Regions from separate parts of the Homo sapiens genome. Here region 2 is linked to region 1. The links come from fine-mapping of genetic effects on gene expression. A gene starts in region 1. The other region holds a variant in brackets. All regions are shown on one strand. Distances are between the middles of the regions.

The links. PIP is the estimated chance that this variant, and not a neighbour inherited with it, causes the effect. A credible set is the group of variants that fine-mapping cannot tell apart.
Region 2: its variant is the best candidate, but not a certain one, in a credible set for the expression of THBS2-AS1 in whole blood (TOPMed, PIP 0.64).

Annotation. Positions count from the first base shown.
Region 1 is chr6:169,210,116-169,215,489 of GRCh38, reverse strand. It overlaps THBS2-AS1 (THBS2 antisense RNA 1), which reads right to left and starts at 2,278. Exons shown (of 3, transcript NR_134621.1): 1 at 1,912-2,278; 2 at 1,003-1,316. RefSeq lists a silencer at 2,190-2,539.
Region 2 is chr6:169,184,455-169,189,828 of GRCh38, reverse strand. No RefSeq gene overlaps it. Among named protein-coding and RNA genes, the nearest start is that of LINC02544, 4.4 kb to the right of the region's middle. RefSeq lists enhancers at 990-1,489, 1,490-1,991, 4,028-4,527. The variant A/G (reference allele first, on the strand shown) is at 3,037.

The DNA of each region.
Region 1 (5,374 bases):
TCGTAGGGAATTTGGCAAACATGATTGAAATGATTCCGAAAAAGGCAACAGCACACGGGACCCTCTCCCTAATACGAGCTGTTCTTCCCTCTTGACTCATTCTTCTGAGTCAGGTGGAGGGAAGTAGCGGACCCCAGAGGAAGGGCCCATTTCCAACCACAGCACTGCCTAAAAATGGGCCGATCGGGCTCACCAGTTGGAGGAGGCAATGGCAGCAGCACAGAACGCTGGGGTTTCTTTAGCAGCTCCAGCTGCTCTTGTTGGGATTTCTGAATATTATGCAGGCAGACACAGAGAAGAAAAACAGGGAGAGAGGGAGAGAGGGCATCCAGAGAGAAAGGGGAAGAGAGGGAGGGAGAGAGGGAGAGAGGGCATCCAGAGAGAAAGGGGAAGAGAGGGAGGGAGAGAGGGAGAGAGGGCATCCAGAGAGAAAGGGGAAGAGAGGGAGGGATGGGGGAGAGAGAAAGAGACAAAGAGACAGAGGGAAAGAGGGGGAGTTGGGGGAGGGAGGAAAAGAGAGCAAGATGAATAAAAACAAGTATACTTGGCTGAAACACGCTGGAGTGAGTCAGACAGTGAAGCAATAAGATATAGGAAAGGCCGTCTGAGGCAACGGGCTGTGAACTGAAGGCCCTGGCTTTGAGTTGTGAAATGAGTGAGTTTTAGTTCATCAATATGGAGGAAAAAGCTAGACCTACATGTGTAAAAAGAAAAGTTTAGAAACAAAATAATGATGGCAGTGATAGTGGCTGGTCTATGGACAGCTACTGGAGGAAGCTCAATGTACATTTTACTCATGAAACAAAAAATACATATAATATGTTGAATAAGGATGCTTAGAAGTCAGGCATTAAAATGAGATACATTTCTCCTGCATTCAGGTTTTGCTGTCATTTATCGAAAAGTTGAGGTTTCCTGACAATCATGTTCCCTGTCGATGGCCTTAGCCACATCAGAATGGTTGTCTCCCAGGATTAATGTGTGGTGCCTTTGTGAGCTCACCTGGGAGGAAGGTGTCCCTGGACCTCGATGACTCCGTGCGAGCACCTGCCCTGTGGCCCTCCATCTCCCTTCTGCGAATCGCTGCCAGCACACCACGGGAGCTCCGCACCTTCCACCGTGGACCGGGAGGGCCGTCGTTCTAGACGCTGATGCTGCTGCTCACAGGGAAAGGTTCGGCCCAGGCCCACGCTCTGAGAGTTGTCTGTACAAGGCTCAACCAACTCGCCCTCAGGGCAGGCACAGGCCTTGGTCGTGTGGAACGAGTCGGTGGGTGAAATAACACATCTTCACTCCCAAGTATCCAAGCGTGGGATCTGTGATTGCCGGGAGGAGAGAAGCCTTCATACCGTGACCAACTCACTGGCTGCTGCGTGTCCCAGCTATAGGCTACATGGGGGCAGAGGGCTCCTTCCGTCATTCCTGGAGGACCAAAATCTTAGGCCAGCTTTGCTCAGTCTGCGTTTCACAAAGTGATGCTTTTGACCATGGAGCAAGTGGTGCCTAGGCCTTGAGGAACGCAGGTGTGGGGTGATCCAGGAGCTGCCACTCCAGCTCCACGGCCACAGCCCTGTGGGCTGCCAATGCCCAAATGGGAGGGCCCTGCTGAGGGCTATCACCCACACGAGGCCCTTAGCCCAGGGCAGGTACCTGCACTGATGCTTCCCACCCTCTTAGTAAAGTCCTTCTGGAGCCACCAGCCTGGGGGCCCAGGGGAGGGGCTGAAGCAAGCTGGGACACTCCTGCTTCGCCCGGGTGTCAGCCCTGTGCCCAGGGGAGTGAGCTGCGGGCCCAGAGCAGCTTGCGGCCCACGCAGCCGGCGTTAGCCTTGGGGACCACGTGGGCATTTGTGAGAGAGGTCCGGGCCCGTGCCCCCCACCCCGTGCAGTCCCACAGGGGCCCCTGACTCACCCTTCCCCAGCCCTTGCTCAGCGGTCCGGCCCCTCTGGCTCCCCTGAGTCTGCGCTTGGCCCCTTGCGGGTGGGGTGAGCGCGGAGCCTCGGCTGTCCCTGCCTCGTGGCCCACCCAGGGCGCCCGCCGCCCCTGCAGCAGTAGCAGGACCTACTGCCAGCTTCTCAGTTCCTGTCTCGGCCTTTTTCAGGCCGTTGAAGACTTTTGCCACTTTTCTGACTTTTTTTTTTTTTTTTTTTTTACCACATAAGGGCTTTTTCAACCCCAAAGCACATCAAATGCAGGATGGGAAGTGATATTCGACTTTCCGGCCTCCAGCGCACACCCCTGACGCGCGCGGACTGCAGGGCTTGGGTCGGGGCGTCCCTGGGAAGCTCAGCCGGTTCAGCCCCGGCGAGCCCCGCCCGCGCGCGTCCCCGAGAGCCGGAGGCCCCGCCGAGCGCATGCCCAGCCCTCCCTGCGCGCCTGCGCCCTCCCTGCGCCCTCTCCTGGGCCCTGACTGTGCTTGAATGACAGCTTCACTGCAGGGTAACCCGGAACCTTCAAAAGGCCGATTCTGCAAACAAAATGGTGTAGAAAGAGGAAGAAAGCATTAGTGCAACAAAACTCGATTGCGCTTCGTTTTATGTACGATTTATTTACTTTTAAAATATTTTTTCTGTTTTTAGATTTATTTTTCTACTGAAAAATTGTTTAGTTATCTTGAGGTGGGACAGAATTCTTCATACGACTTTTCCCATTTAAAAATGTAATTATTTTTAAATATGGCTTTAGGAATAAATTACAGTTGTTAAAATGGAGATACATATTATTTATATTTATGTATTGATTATTGAATGGTATATACGCAAGCAACATACACGTGACTATACATATGCATCATGAATACACAAACCTCCCTTGTCTCAGGCCATACTTATTCTGGATTTTAAAGAAGTGGAAAAGTTGGCAAAGTGTCAGAGAACAAGATCAACACATGGAAATCAGTTGTGCGTCTGTATACCAGACAGAAACAATTTAAAACGGAAGTTAAAAGTACAATACCATTTGCAATAACATACAAAACAATAAAATACCTCGTAATAAATGTAACTTGGGAGGCAGAAGACTTGTACTATGAAAACAGAAAAACAATGCCAAAATAAATTAAAACCTATATAAATGGAAAGACACCCTCGTGTATAGTTTGGAAGATTTAATTCTAATTCATTATAATATCTGTAGTATTCTTGGGTTATATGTGATATTTTGATATCTGTTTAAAATGTGTAATGATAAAGTTAGGGTAATTGGGATACCCATGACCTCATACATTTTTATTCTCTGTATTGAGAACATTACAATTCTTCTAGCTATTTTGATATGTACAATAAACTATTAAGCATAATTTTCCTACTATACTGCATGTGATAGCTCATTCCTTCTGACTGTATTTTTGTACTCCTTAACCAGCTCCCCTTCATCTTCCTCTCCACCATTCCACCCCAGCATCTGGCATCCGCCATCCTGCTCTCAACATCCACAAGACCCACTGTTTTAGCTCCCACATATGAATGAGAACATGCAATATTTGTCTTTCTGTGTCATGCTTATTTTACATAACAGAATGATCTTCAGATCTATCCATCCTGCTGCAAATGACAGGATTTAATTCCTTTTTATGGCTGACTAGTATTCCATTGTGTGCATATACAATATTTTCTTTGTCCTTTCGCCTATTGATGAACACTTAGGTTGATTCGATGTCTTGGCTATTGTGAGTAGTGTTGTAATAAACATGAGAGGGCCGATGTCTCTTTGATATACTGATTTCCTTTCTGTCAGATGCATACCCAGCAGTAAGATTGCTGGACTATACCAAACGTAGTTCTAGTTTAGTTTTTTGAGGAACCCCCATACTGTTTTCCCTAGTGGGTGTACTACTTTACATCCCTACCAACAGTGTATGAGTGTTCCTTTTTTTCCACCTTCTCATCAGCATTTGCTATTTTTTGTCTTTGTGATAATTCTAAATGGGGTCAGATAATATCTTCTTGTGGTTTTGAATTGCATTTCTATAATGACTAGTGATGTTGAGCCTTTTTTCATGTACGTGTTGGCCATTTCTTTTGAGAAATGTCTATTAGGTCTTTTGCCCAGTTTTTAATTGGGTTGTTTGAGTTTCTTATATATTCTGATTACTAATCCCTTGTTGGATGGGTAGTTTGCAAATATTTTCTCCCATTCTGTGGGTTGTCTCTTCACTTCGTTGATTTTTTCCTTTGCTGTGTAGAAGCTTTCTGGCTTGATATAATACTATTTTTCTATTTTTGTTATAGTTGTCTGTAATGTTGAGGTCTTACCAAAAAATCTTTACCCAGATCAATGTCCTGGAATGTTTCTCCGTATTATTTTTTAGTAGTAGTTCTATCGTTTTGGGTCTTGCATTGAAGTCTTTAATCCATTTTGATTTGATGTATGTATATGGTAAAAGAGGGGGGTCTCGATTCATTTTTTTCTGCATGTCTAACTTTCCTGGCAGTATTTATCAAAGAGACTGTCCATTCCCCAATGTATGTTCTTGATGTCTTTGCCAAAAATGAGTTGGCTGTAAGTACGTGGATTTATTTCTGAATTCATCGTTTTATTCCATTGGTCCACATGTCTGTTTTAGTGTTGGTACTGTGCTGTTCTGGTTACTATACATTTGTAGCAAAATTTGAAATCAGGCAGTGTGATGTCTTCAGCTTTGTTCTTTTTTCTCAGGATGGCTTTAGCTATTTGGAGTCTTTTGTGGTTTCCTACGCTTGTAGGAATGCTTTTTTCTGTTTCTGTGAATAACATCATTGGTATTTTGCTAGAGATTACATTGAATCTATTGATCACTTTGGGTGATTTACAGTATTCATTCTTCTAATCCATGAGCATGGGATATCTTTCCATTTGTGTCTGTGTACCCTCTTCTTCTCTTTCATCAGTGTTTTATAGTTTTCCTTGTAGAGATCTTTTACTTCCTTGGTTAAACATATTCCTAGGTATGTTTTTTGTACCTACTGTAAATGAGATTGCTTTCTTGATTTCCTTTTTAGATTGATCTCTGTTAATGTATATAAATGCTACTGATTTTTATATGATCATTTTTTATTCTGAAACTTTATTAATTTATTGGTTCTGATTTGTGTGTGTGTGTGTGTGTGTGTGTGTGTGTGTGTGTGTAGTCTTTAGGTTTTTCTAACTATAAGATTGTGTCATCTGCAAACAAGGATAATGTGATGTCTTCCTTTTCCAATGTGGATACCCTTACTTTCTTTCTCTTGTCTAATTGCTCTGGCCAGGACTTTGAGTATTATATTGAATACAAGTGGTGAAAACAGACATCCTTGCCTTGTTCCAATCTTAGTGAAAAGCCTTTCCATTTTTCCTTGTTTAGTATGATATTAAATGTGGGTGTATCATATATGGACTTCCTTGTGTTGAAGTACAT
Region 2 (5,374 bases), 26 kb after region 1:
ACAACATTCGACAACCACAAGGGAAGGCCACACAGGAGCGTGGTGCTCCGGCTTGGGGACGTAACGGGTCCCACAGAGCTGCTTTTATTAACGATAAGGAATTTCACACCCCTGTGTTTGCCCATGAGAAGCAGAATATTGTCTGATGTGCTGAGTATCACACACATATTTTGATCCTCTTAACTAATTATTTGAATAATGAAGCCCAGAAAATGAAAGGAGTAAATAAATTCCACCTTGCAAAAAATACAATTTTGCAGTTTACAAAGTGTTCCAGTGAAGCTATGGGATCCCAAATCAACTCCTGCACCCCTGCGCTCCCTAGCCCAGGAGCTGATGCTCTGCCCAGCACACCCCACCCGCGGCTCAGCTGCCATTGTGAGTGTCTCTTTGCCCTCGGTGATGAGTGCAGCACCTGCCTTTCTGTGTAAGCTACGCTGAAGTGCCCAGTAGGATTTCTGTGAGAGGGAAATATGCAAAACCCCATTGATGTCTATTCCCAGTGATCGAGAAGGAAAAAGGCTCACTGTTCCAGGAGGCTGCACAAGTTTTTCTGTCACCTTAATTGATGTGTGTCTAGTGTAACATTTCCAACAGACAAAAAATATGGGAAACGTTGCACTTTCTTCGTTCTAGCCCCACAATGTATACCATGTGCTACTGTGAAACAGAACTTCTGTGAAAGGACTCCTGGCTGGGCGTGGTAGCTCATGTCTATAATCCCAGCACTTTGGGAGGCTGAGGCAGGTGGGTCACCTGAGGTTAGGAGTTCAAGACCAGCCTGACCAATATAGTGAAACCCGGTCTCTACTAAAAATACAAAAATCAGCCAGGTGTGGTGGTGCATGCCTGTTATCCCAGCTACTTAGGAGGCTGAGACAGGAGAATTATTTGAACCTGGGAGGTGGAGGTTGCAGTGAGCTGAGATGGCACCACTGCACTCCAGCCTGGGTGACACAATGAGACTCCATCTCCAAAAAAAAAAAAACCTCTGTGAAAGGACTCCTAAGCAGGTGCTCAAGGAAAACAAGCTCGCCCCTTACTTTGCAGCTGCCGAGTGAGTCAGCGACTCACACCATTGTCTGAGCCTCTGGTTTAAAAGCTGAGGTTTACCGTGAATTATGACGTCACCAGAGTCCATGTGGTTTTGATATTTATAAGTAAAATTCTCAAAATGTGAGCTTCCTTGGTGTCATGCTTTGCTGTCGCTGGGGACCCTTGTGGGTAGCACTGCAGGGAACAGCTGCAAACCCACTGCTCACCTGTCTCCAGACTGAGCTGTCAGTCTTCCTCTGGCATTCTCCCTCCCTCCCCTCCAATCCAGCCAGTCTCCAAGGCCTCCTGGGACACTGGGGCTCAGTTTCCTTCCCTCCAACCCCATGGCCACTCTGCAGCTTGGGGCAGAGGCAGTGGGCTTCCCGCTCCCAGGCCTACTTCCCTCCATTCTCTACCAGCAGCTGGAGGGATCTTCTGAAAACAAAGCTCTGAGTGTCTTCTCACCTCCTCAAAACCCTTCAAAACCTCATGTGACTCAGAGAGCACCTACAGCGGTCCCCAACACCCCGGCAGCACCTCCTCACTCACTGTTGCTGGAGGCAGCCTCACCAGCAGGCCTCGTTCATCTCCGTGAGTGTCCAGAGACGCCCCCTCGCCCCATGCTGTCTGCTCTGGATGGTGGAGGCTCTTCCCTCTCCAGAGCTCTCCTCTGTGTGGAGGTCGGGCAGCTGTGGGAGGCACCAGCCACGTGCTGTCCATGGCTGGTGGCCTTCTACTGGGGACAGGGATGGGGGACAGGGGGATGGGGGACAGTGACAGGGGGGACGGGGAGCGGGGGGACAGGGTGACAGCCTGCCCGCAGCTTTGCGGTCATTTGCAGGGTTTACATTTGCTCGACTCTTTTGACTTTTTAAATCTTTTTTAAGTGCATGGCTGTGTTGGGTTCACAATTATTTGAATAAACAATCGTTCAATTAGTTTAGTTTTATCCAGTTGTTGCCTATCAGTGGATGTGTGATCTAACACAAGCTTATACAAGGAGAATTTGCTCTTCGTTACTGTGTTAACAGTATTTCTTCTACTTATAAATAGATTAATCCAGTAAAATGTAGAGAGGCGAGAGAGAGCTGAAACTAAGGTCTGCTGAGTGTTTAACTTGAACACGCTCTTATTTGGTGGCTACTTTTAAACAACTCCAGAAATTTAATAAATTACTCTGGATAAAAGGTTGCTTCCTGTTTCTAAGGAGCTGTCCCTCTTTAGATCAACATTTAAACTTACATTAAGATGTATACTTCTTGGGGTAATTTAAAGTTGAGCTGAGATTCTCTTCTGGATAAGCAGGATCACCAGGTCGGGATGGCTTTTCTCTGCTCTTGGTTCTGCTCACGTTTTGCCACATTGGAGAGTTTGTTCTTGCAACCGTCCATAAGTAACTTGTCTGCTTTCAGAGGTTTTAGCTAAATTTCTCTTCATAAAATCATTCTAGCAAATTTATTATGCAAATGGTATAAGGGATTAGCTTTGCTTTTTTTTGTACTTTAAATTATTCTGTCATCTTTCTCTTACAGTACGTGTCCCGTAGCACCTAAATAAATTTCTATCTCTTATACCTTTTGTTGTGAATACATGTTTTGGTCTAAATACATATAATTGCTAAGTTTTGTTGATTTGGGACTAGTTTGTGTTCAGAGTGGTGGAGTCAATGTGAAGTCTCCCGGGTGTGAGCAGGTGCCGTGCAGAGGCTGCACGGGGCTTCCCCGGACCTGCTCTCCAGGATGCCCACCTCGTCAGGCTCACCCCCACCACACCTGAGCTTCTGTCCGTGGAGGTGGTTGAGGCGGCTGGTGGGTGGCGTGTGTGTGGTCATGGCCCTGTTCAGTTACGCTGTCTGTTCTTAACTTCTGCCACATCCTCCTTTGGCCTTTAATTTCGTAAAGGTTGTTGTGGGTGGAATGTTCTGTGGTCCATTTCTTTCCACCTCAGAGCTACCCCTGGACCTGATGTTTTTGTGTAAATGCTGGTGCTCACTCTGCGGCC[A/G]TCGTAGGGTTTGCTGAAGATGGTGGCGTGTGGCCGGGTCAGCAGCAGCCGGTGGGGGCTTCAGGGTTTGTTGATGGCACAGTGGGCTCCTCCGAGGAAGCGAAGCGCTGCCCTCAGTCCCGGCTGCTGCTGGCGGCACTCGGGCCGGTGACTGCTCATTTTATTGAGCTCATGGCAAGGCGTAGGGGGTGGCTGACCGCAGCCTGGGTCTTAGCTGTCATGCTCAGAACACACTAAAGTCACTTTCACAGTTTGTTTTTATTTTAGCGGTAGCTTTTCATGGCTTAGTTGGGGTTTAACTTTATTTGTGTATAAACTTAAGCACGCTTTACACTGGGCTTTATTAATTTGGGTTAAGCCTATGGCCATGGTGGCCGGCACGAAATTTACCAACCCTAAGGAAAATGACTGTAGCTTCTCACACTTCTGCTTTACCACCACATCTCTACCTCCGCTGTTTCCCGCAGGGCCGTGGCGGAGTGGGGAGCTAGGAGCTGCTCCTGAGTGAGCCTACGGCCCGTTGCTTTGGGTCTCCTGCGAACCTAGAGGCCTCCGTGCAGGAACACAGGTACCTGGATGCGTGGCCTCGCAAAGAACTCATGAGGAGGCCAAGACCAGGCTGTGTGCTGATGGTGTTGCATGAACTCAGGCTTGGTCAGTGCCTGGCTTCAGTGATGTCAACGTGTACTCAGAGGAGAAATGGCTGAGCTTCGGTTCTATGTGAGTATCCTGGGCTTTCTTAGTAATCATAGTAAGAAACAAAACAAGTTTTAGTCCAAAAAGCCTAATTTTGAGTGAATTTTTCTGGCAAAGCAGGCTGTGGCCTGTAGGGGCCCAGCTCTGACGTCACAGCAGGTGACACAGGTCAGAAGCAGCCTCCTTGGAATGGATTCAGCGTGCTGGGGCCGCCTCCCTGCCACCTCGCTTGGCCGGGCATCACCACGGCACACAGTGAGGGACCTTCTGATCCCGGTGGCAAGGGCCGTGTCTCCAGCCTGCCCCTGTGGCCAGCCCTGTGCACCTCTTTCTTTTTTCTTTTTTCTTTTTTTTTTTTGAGATGGAGTCTCGTTCTGTCGCTCAGGCTGGAGTGCTGTGGTGCGATCTGGGCTCACTGCAAACTCCGCCTCCCGGGTTCACGCCATTCTCCTGCCTCAGCCTCCCTAGTAGCTGGGACTACAGGCTTCTGCCACCACGCCCGGCTAATTTTTTGTATTTTTAGTAGAGACGGGGTTTCACCATGTTAGCCAGGATGGTCTCGATCTCCTGACCTCGTGACCGCCTCGGCCTCCCAAAGTGCCGGGATTACAGGCATGAGCCACGGCGTCCGGCCCTGTGCACCTCTTTCATTTCAGGTTTCCAGCGCATTGAAACAGTCTCTGACACCACTCTGGAGAGAGCAGAAGCCACGCTGGAGTGACCGGCCCTCTCGGACCACAGGGGTGGACATAGCGGTGGCTGTGGCAGCCTCAGTTGGCCACCTCCCCATTCACCCCACGTGCTCCCCATGGCCTCTCTCTGGCACTATTAACAGCACTGACCCCACGAGTGGGGAGGGTCCCTGCGAGTACAGAAGCCCCTCCCCACCGTTCAGCATGGACAGCCAGTCCGGTACAGCCCCATTGGTAAGAGGCTTGGGAATAAAGGGTGATACCGGGGGGTGGGGGGCTGAGGGTCTCTGACCTCTGTGGGGACGCAGTGGGTGCCACAGTGATTGACACGTCCAGCTGGGCCTGCCGGCTGTGGGACACCCTAAGGCATCATGAGGTTGCTAGTTTTGGCAACAGAGAGGAGAATTTGTGGAAATGGGGTGCCGTAGAAGAAAAGTAGACTGGGCTTGGTCCTCACAAAGGAATTGTCGACTGTTCCTGGTAGAATTTTAACCCTTATATTTGGGAAAGGGAGCAAGGAAAGATAAAATCTCCTAACTGGTCAGGCGACTGCCTGGATGGACTGCTAGGGTTGGTTTTTCGGTCTCAAATGTCCCTGAAGGAGTTGGAGGGTTGGTGTTGACAGAGCCCCTGCTGCTGGCATGAGCTGGGTATCCTGATCCTTGGTTAGAAGCTGTTTCTGTTGAATGATATCCCAGAACTATTAATTCTGGAAGCTTGAAAACCACTTATGTAATGTCTTCAGAGCAATATTAAGGGCTGGTCTCCACAGGAGAAATCTGGGCCACAGTTACACAGGATCCCACCCTGTTTCCAGGGAGCATTTGCCTCTTAGCATTTGTTAAGAAGAAGTTACAGTTTATAGCTTGAAAAATATAAGGATGGCGAATGAGATCAATGGGATATTTCAGCTTTTCTCCGATTCTCTGTGAAACCTTTCCTTGTCAGTT